2 linked regions of the Homo sapiens genome follow. The protein of the gene in region 2 interacts with the protein of the main gene of each other region in a pairwise test. Each region holds a gene or a part of one and is shown on either strand. Other genes may lie near its edges.

What was found. The genes of interacting proteins can lie anywhere in the genome.
Region 1: the proteins of UMPS (region 2) and PLA2G12A interact in a two-hybrid assay, tested with the Homo sapiens proteins (one large-scale study listed by BioGRID and IntAct).

Annotation. Positions count from the first base shown.
Region 1 is NC_000004.12:109,723,442-109,727,093, forward strand, and holds part of PLA2G12A (group XIIA secretory phospholipase A2 precursor), read right to left. Parts: intron 1-3,652. UniProt on the Homo sapiens protein: PA2 catalyzes the calcium-dependent hydrolysis of the 2-acyl groups in 3-sn-phosphoglycerides. Does not exhibit detectable activity toward sn-2-arachidonoyl- or linoleoyl-phosphatidylcholine or -phosphatidylethanolamine.
Region 2 is NC_000003.12:124,736,823-124,740,474, reverse strand, and holds part of UMPS (uridine 5'-monophosphate synthase), read right to left. Parts: intron 2,908-3,652; coding exon 2,236-2,907; exon of another isoform or gene 2,032-2,235; intron 452-2,031; coding exon 276-451; intron 1-275. UniProt on the Homo sapiens protein: Bifunctional enzyme catalyzing the last two steps of de novo pyrimidine biosynthesis, orotate phosphoribosyltransferase (OPRT), which converts orotate to orotidine-5'-monophosphate (OMP), and orotidine-5'-monophosphate decarboxylase (ODC), the terminal enzymatic reaction that decarboxylates OMP to uridine monophosphate (UMP).

The sequences.
Region 1 (3,652 bases), on a different chromosome or scaffold from region 2:
ATTAATCAGGACAGAGGTCCACTACAGATGAGTCCTCTCTCCAAGCAGCCGTGAAGTCATCAAATAGTAACCAGTTTTTCTCACAGGAGTATCATGAGAAACTATACATTTATCTATAGTTTTCTTTGCCCTAACACACTATAAATCTCTTCACAGAAAAGGAGGCTGGATCAGCATTTAATTCTTGGGAAGCCCATTCTAGTTCCTCAAGCTTCATCATGAAACTCTCTTTCGTCAGGGGTTTTGACAATCAACTGTTCAAAATGTTTAGAAACATATCTAGAGATACACACTAAGAAATAGGTCAAGTTGTTAATCTGAAAAAAGTACAATAAATACACCAGAGAATGTTCAAAAAGTCTGGAAACAGGAATAATAGTGTATTTACAATATATATTGTTCAGGTTAACAACTGGACTGTTTTAAATTTAGAAGTATATCATCTAAAAAAGTGTCTAGTGGTTAATGAAAAACATATTGAGTGTGTCATTTGAAAATAAAACATAATGTTTATCCTATGTTTCCAACTTTTTAGACACCTTGTACATTCTCCCTCCCTCCCATCTGCCAGTCTAGAGATTTCTGGCACCTCACCCTGTTCCATGAGAAGCAAAGATTACCACCCTCAGACAACCGATATGGGCCTATGGCTTTAAAGACATGTGTCTCAATTGTCTTATTTTGTTTGTTTGTTTTTTTCTGAGACTGAGTTTTGCTCTTGTTGCCCAGGCTGGAGTGCAATGGCATGATCTCAGCTCACTGCAACCTCTGCCTCCTGGGTTCAAGCGATTCTTCTGCCTCAGCCTCCCAAGTAGCTGGGATTACAGGCATGCGCCACCATGCCTGGCTAATCTTGTATTTTTAGTAGAGATGGAGTTTCTCCGTGTTGGTCAGGCTGGTCTTGAACTCCTGACAGGTGATCCGCCTGCCTCAGTCTCCCAAAGTGCTGGGATTACAAGCGTGAGCCATCGCGCCCGGCCTTTTTTTTTTAATCAGAAAGATACTTCCCTCAATGTACATACAACAGCAGTACTTCTATTTTTCCTTCCTTTTGTATTTTATCTAAATCCATAGACTCTGATTTCAAATCTATAAAAACATTCCTGATGCTGATGATGTGTGTAATGACAGTGATACATATATATGTGTATGCATGCGTGTACATATATAGACATTTTCTCATAAGAGATAATTACCTTTGAATGGGAGAATGATCAGACACAAATGAAGTCAGAAAAACTAAAAACATGCCCACCATAGGAGAGTAAAGAGGAAGAGATAGTACAGAGAAGGACAACTGGCAAAAATGAGAATGGAGGTACAAGGAAGTAGGAGGCTGCTGTGCCAAACAGGGCTAGTGGTTATAACTGTCTGAAGAAGAAAAGTTGATAAAAATCAAGTAATAAAGAGCCAACATCTACTGTACATGAAAAACTGGATAATAACACCATGAAATAAATGCTGGTAAAAAGTTTGGCTCCCCAGTGTAAATGGCAAAAGGGGCATATGTGTATGGTTCTTTAGTTTTTTTCAAGGCAAACTCCTAATGTCATTTCTTCAGAGAGGCTTTCCCTGCTTACCCAATCTAAAATAGCACCCCCTCTCTTTCTAGCATTTATTGACCTAATTAACATTAACATTAGTCGGTTTCTATGAAGAAAGGACTTAGTCTTGCTCACCTAGAAGATATTTAGCACACAGTGGGCACCCAATAAATTACCAGATTAAAAAATGGGAAACATTCTTTGATGAAATTAAAATAATTCTTTATCCACAGCAAAAAACTGAAAACTTGGAAGTAACTAGTTTCCTGAGAAATTCTAAAGTATTTTGAAATTCTAAATTCACCTTTAAATTAAAATAGTTATTTCTGAACAAGGCAAGTTATATAGACAGTTCTTTATTAGAGGTTAAGTTGATTCAGACACCAATGTTACAAATGTATTAATATTTTAAATTTTGTTATAGTTTTATAAATGGCTAAGCATTTTAAAAATTAGCATTTCTACTGGTGCCAGTTTTTACAAATAAAGCAAAAACTCAATAATGGAAGAAACAAAATCAGAGTAACATCAAAACACCATGATGTGTTGCGGCCATTGTCCTCTAAAATTTGTAAGCGGATACAAACCAAATCCACTGTGTACAACTGCATGGAAAGACTATTCATTAATTTCCATTTTTGACTTAAGCAATAGCTCCTTCTCTTGATTGTTTATCATTTGTATGGACTGCAGAAATCTAAAGATTTTCATAGACTGAGACAAAGTTGATTATTTTCCATGTATTTTTTCTAAATTTGATGCAAATACTTCCAGATAGACCAACTGTTTTCACCTGACAGAATATGAAGCAGATGACAAGCACAAGAAGTAGTCTGCTGGGTCACACAAAGGTCTCATGGCAGAGTTTTGTAAGATTCCAACCTGCACTCCCAAACACTTGAGACTTTAAGTATTCATGATCATTAATCTCCAAAAGGTCCTTATATTACTTTATTTTTCTAGTCTGTTCACTTTTATATTTTCCTCAAATCTCCAACATCCCCATTCCCCATCTTCTCTGTCAGCTGATGACCTGGATTCCTACTTTACTGAAAAAAGCAGGCAATCAGGAGAACTTGAACATCCACCCACTTAACCAGCACCAGTGCTCATATCCTCTACCTGTGTTCCTATTAACAGGGCTATGCTATATGCTCTTGGCCAAACTCTCTAAGTATGTACTAGAAACTACCCCCTCTCACTTACCCAAGGCTATGACTCCAATAATTCTCTCCCTCGTCAGTATTTCTACTCTCCACTGAACCATTCTCAAAAGCATACAAATGTGTTATTATTTTTCCTAATGCCCGAAAACTGTTCTTTCCACGGTCTTCCCCATATCAGTTAATGGTAATTCTGTCCTTCCAGTTGTTCAGGCCAAAAACTGTGGTATCATTTTTGACTTAACTCATACCTAACTTCTAAGCCATCAGCAAATCTTTTAGGTCCTTCCTTCAAAATATATCCAAAATCCAACTACTTCTCATTACCTCTGTTGCTACCAACCTGAGCAAAATCACCCGTCTTTTGTCTGGACTCCTGCATGCGTCACCCTGCTTCCATTTTTACTCCCCCACTCCCTTGACCCCTTCTGTTCTCAGCACAACAGCCAGAGGGATCCTAGAAAACATACGTCACTGAATTAATTAATGACTTATTCATCATTCTAAAAACATTTACAAGCCAGTTTTGTGTTCTATTTTTCAAAGGAAATCGAAAAGTTTTCTTCCTTAAATCTTCCTTGCTGTCAGGGAGAAAAAAGTTGAAGAAAATAACGGATCATCAAATTTATTTCCCTAAATACTTAACTCTCAATAAGGCCTTTTTCCTACCCAAGAGAGGATGGCCAAAACTAAGGGAGCAAGTCTCCATAATGCCAGTCCCTCAGGTAAAGCAAGGACATGTGCCCTTTATTTGACCAACCTCTCCCTACCATTAACTCACTCTTTTTTTTTTTTTTTAAAGCTCTCTTGATCTCTTTCGTGCAACTAAAAATACCCCTTAATCACCATGTTTCTCCAGATTTGGGATTGTTCTGTTTGGTTCTGATTTGGTCACCTGAATTCCAAAATATAGGAAAGGTTGAATTGTTCCAGAGAGACTGCTCG
Region 2 (3,652 bases):
TGGTAGATTTAGTAAGTGTTTGTTTGACTAACTATCTGGGTCTCAAAGTTTCTCTTGGAGTATAATTCAAATTCCTGAAGTGTCCACTACATGATATAAAATGCTATTAACTATCAAGGAATTCTATCCAACTAGTATTAATATACTGTCACACTAACAAGAGCTGGATTTTTTTTTTGGCAGAGGTTCCAGAAACGCCAGATTAGGAGATATCTTCTTGCAGCATGCAGCATAGCAGCCCCTGCCCCCTCTCACCCAGTCCCCCCACCACTTACCGCTGCTCTAGTGTAGTCCCCAGTGGCCAGGGAGCCGGTGGAGCTCATTTCCGCAATAAGGAGGCACCCCCGATGCAAAGGCAGGCCCACTTCTTGCAGGCCTTTCACAACTCCTGAGCCTGGCACCACGTGAGCATTTACTAGATCTGCCCAGGAAGCTATTTTAAAGATACCTCCTAAGAAGAAGGGGGAAAAAAGATATTTGCTGATTTTCAAACAAAACCTCTAACGTCTTGTCCAACCAACCAACTACAATATGAAATAATCTCCCAGTAACATGTTAATGAGAGAATCAAAACTCTTCAGGAACTTTAGTGATTATCAGCAGACCCATGGTTCCATCTGTGAAAACTGTATCTGTTATTCAGGTAAGTAGCTGGGTGAGAGATCACAATGAGAAAAAACTTTCAAGGTCTGCACTTGGCTTATCTGGAACACTAACAGGACTCTTTTTCCTTGAAGGCTGAAGCTCATGACCACAAATAAAGCTCATGCTATTAGAAAGGGACTCCAGTGAAGATAAACATTTATTGATGTCAAGGATAACATTTAAAAATTCCTCTTGAAGCTGGGCATGGTGGCTCATGCTTGTAATCCCAGTACTTTGGGAGGCTGAGGTGGGCAGATTGCTTGAGTTTAGGAGTTCGAGACCAGCCTGGGCAACATGGCAAAACTCCATCTCTACCAAAAATACAAAAAAATTAGCTAGGTGTGGTGGCGCATGCCTGTGGTCCCAGCTACTTGGGAGGCTGAGGTGGGAGGATCACTTGAGCCCAGGAGGTGGAGGTTGCAGTGAGTCAAGATTGCACCACTGCACTCCAGCCTGGGCGACAGAGCAAGACCCCATCTCAAAAAAAATAATAATAAAAATAAAATTCTTCTTGAAGATGACAAGTTTTCACTCTGCAGGGGTCTCTCAGCAGCTTTACTATCGCTCAATATTTCTACGTGTTCCTTAGATCTCCTTAGCTATCTAATTTCAATAGGCAACTATATTCCTTTTAAAAGCGGACAGTAACAAGCCTGATTTTCGAAAAAACTCTATGCAGAGCTGAAGAAAGTTTGTATAAAACTCTTATGTCAGTCAATCAGCTAAAGTAAGCTAGGCAATGTGATGAGGGCAGGACATCTTAAGCACATGAAGAAGTCACTTAAAGACAAATCTATTTTAAAGAAATAGCTTATGAACATGCATACATTAAAGAAAAGTTACCTCAAAGATGCCTACAAAAAATGTTATATGACACAACCAAATATCTGTTACCAGGTTAAGTGAAAAATGCATTAAATATAGTCTGATCACACAGTTGTAAAAACATAGACAGAAATTTGCATAGAATAGGCAGTAGAACTAAGCATTTTTCTCAACCAACACATGCACTACTTTGAGTCCCTATTTGATAAAAGAAAAATCTTTAAATAATGTTTATCAATAGAACTTTTTCTGCTACAAATAAATCTTACCATTTTATATTTCTTTTTCATTGTTTCCTTTATGTGGAATTTTCATTCAAAACATCATATTCTGCCAAGGACATCTGTCAAATTTGCTTGCCCAGGCACATACCCTTCTTCTGGTACTAGCACATCCATTTTCTTTAAGGAAATTATCCCTGACTGGTTCTTATTTCAAGAAGGTCATACAGAGTTAACAACCTCACAGTTGCAGAGCAAATTGCCCAGGCTAGTTAATGAAGGTATTCTACATCCCAAGCTAGAGTGATTGGTTTGGGGTGAGCATGCAGAGTATGCCTACCTGAGAAAGAAGTCAACAGAGAAGAAAGCAGAGCTGAGAGATGGAGAGAAAGCAAGTCATGAAGATATCACTTGAGCTCCTGGATCCAACCACGCTTGACAGCCTGCTCTATGAATGGACTTTCAATGACATGAGCATTTCCTTTTTCTTCTTCAGTTTAAGCTGGATTTCTGATTCTTGCAGATTCCTGAATAATACACTTACCTTCATACTGCTTTTTCACTGTGTTTCCTATATCTGCAAACTTCCGGTCTTCAAATATCAAGAACTCATGGCATTTTGCCAGAGTTATCAACTCCTTCATCACATCCAGAGTAAAATCATTCAAAATATCTACATGAGTCTTCAGCATGCAGATACTAGGTCCTAAAGCATCTGCTAGCTGCAACAGCTCTCTGGCCAGTGAAACATCAGCAGATAGACACAGATTGGTCTCCTTCTTTTGCATAAGCCTGAGAAGCTTCGATGCAACTGGGTGGATCCTGGGCAGCTCTGCACGTGCACCGAAGCTGAGTTCTTTGGGTGCTTCCTTTATAGAAAGGGGAGAACCATTATGATTCGCTGCCACAAAGACATTCTCCTGAATAAACCTCTTCACTCTCCCAACTGTCTCAGCATCAACTTTTTTCTGCTGCTCGAGAATCTCCAGCATTTTGGACAATGTACACACTGAGTGGAGGCGGATCCCGTGCGCCTGCAACTTGTCCTTGCCTCCCTGCTCTCTGTCCAACAGCACTATGGCATCAGTGACCTTCAAGCCCTCCTTCTGAAGAACCTCAACAGTTTCCAAAACACTAGATCCACTGGTGACAACATCTTCAATGATTAAACAGGTTTCTCCTGGATTAATAGTTCCTTCTACAAGACGCTTAGTTCCTAGAAAAGAAAAAATTTTGCTGATTCCAAATTTAAATATGTATGTATATGTGCGTATATACGTACACACACTCTGTATACAAAACTTGCCAGTTACACATACAGTATATGTGTATACCAATTCTGTATACCAAACTTGCTAGTTGCACATACAGTATATTTATGTATAAAGCCAACTCTGTATACCAAACTTGCCAGTTACACATACAGTATATTTATAGTAAATCAAGTAAATTATTTCACATTATAAACACTGCTTAATGTGTTTTATGATCAAATTTTCAAATAGAGAGGTTTTTTTTTTACTTTAAAAAAATCTGTTTTATCATAGAGATGAGGTCTCACTATGTTGTCTAGGCTGGTCTTGAACTCCTGAGCTCAAGTGATCCTCCCGCCTCAGCCTCCCAAAATGCTAGGATTATAGGTGTGAGCCACCACGTCCAGCCTAAATACAGAGTTTCTTACAGCAAGATCACCTAGATCAAGGAAAGTTATGAAACAGAATAATCCAGTATCATGAATGAAATAATTCCTTTTTCCATCAAAGTATTTTAAGTTCACTATTCAAGATCAGCCAAATAATTGACTTTTTGAAGACACAAATTCAGAAGGAAAAATATTCAGCAATCATTTAGACCCATTACTACAATCTAAAGAATTATATAATGCAATGTGATTAAATATATACTTCTCTACCCAAATCCCACTAGACTATTTTCAGATAATCTACAAAACGTAAATAACT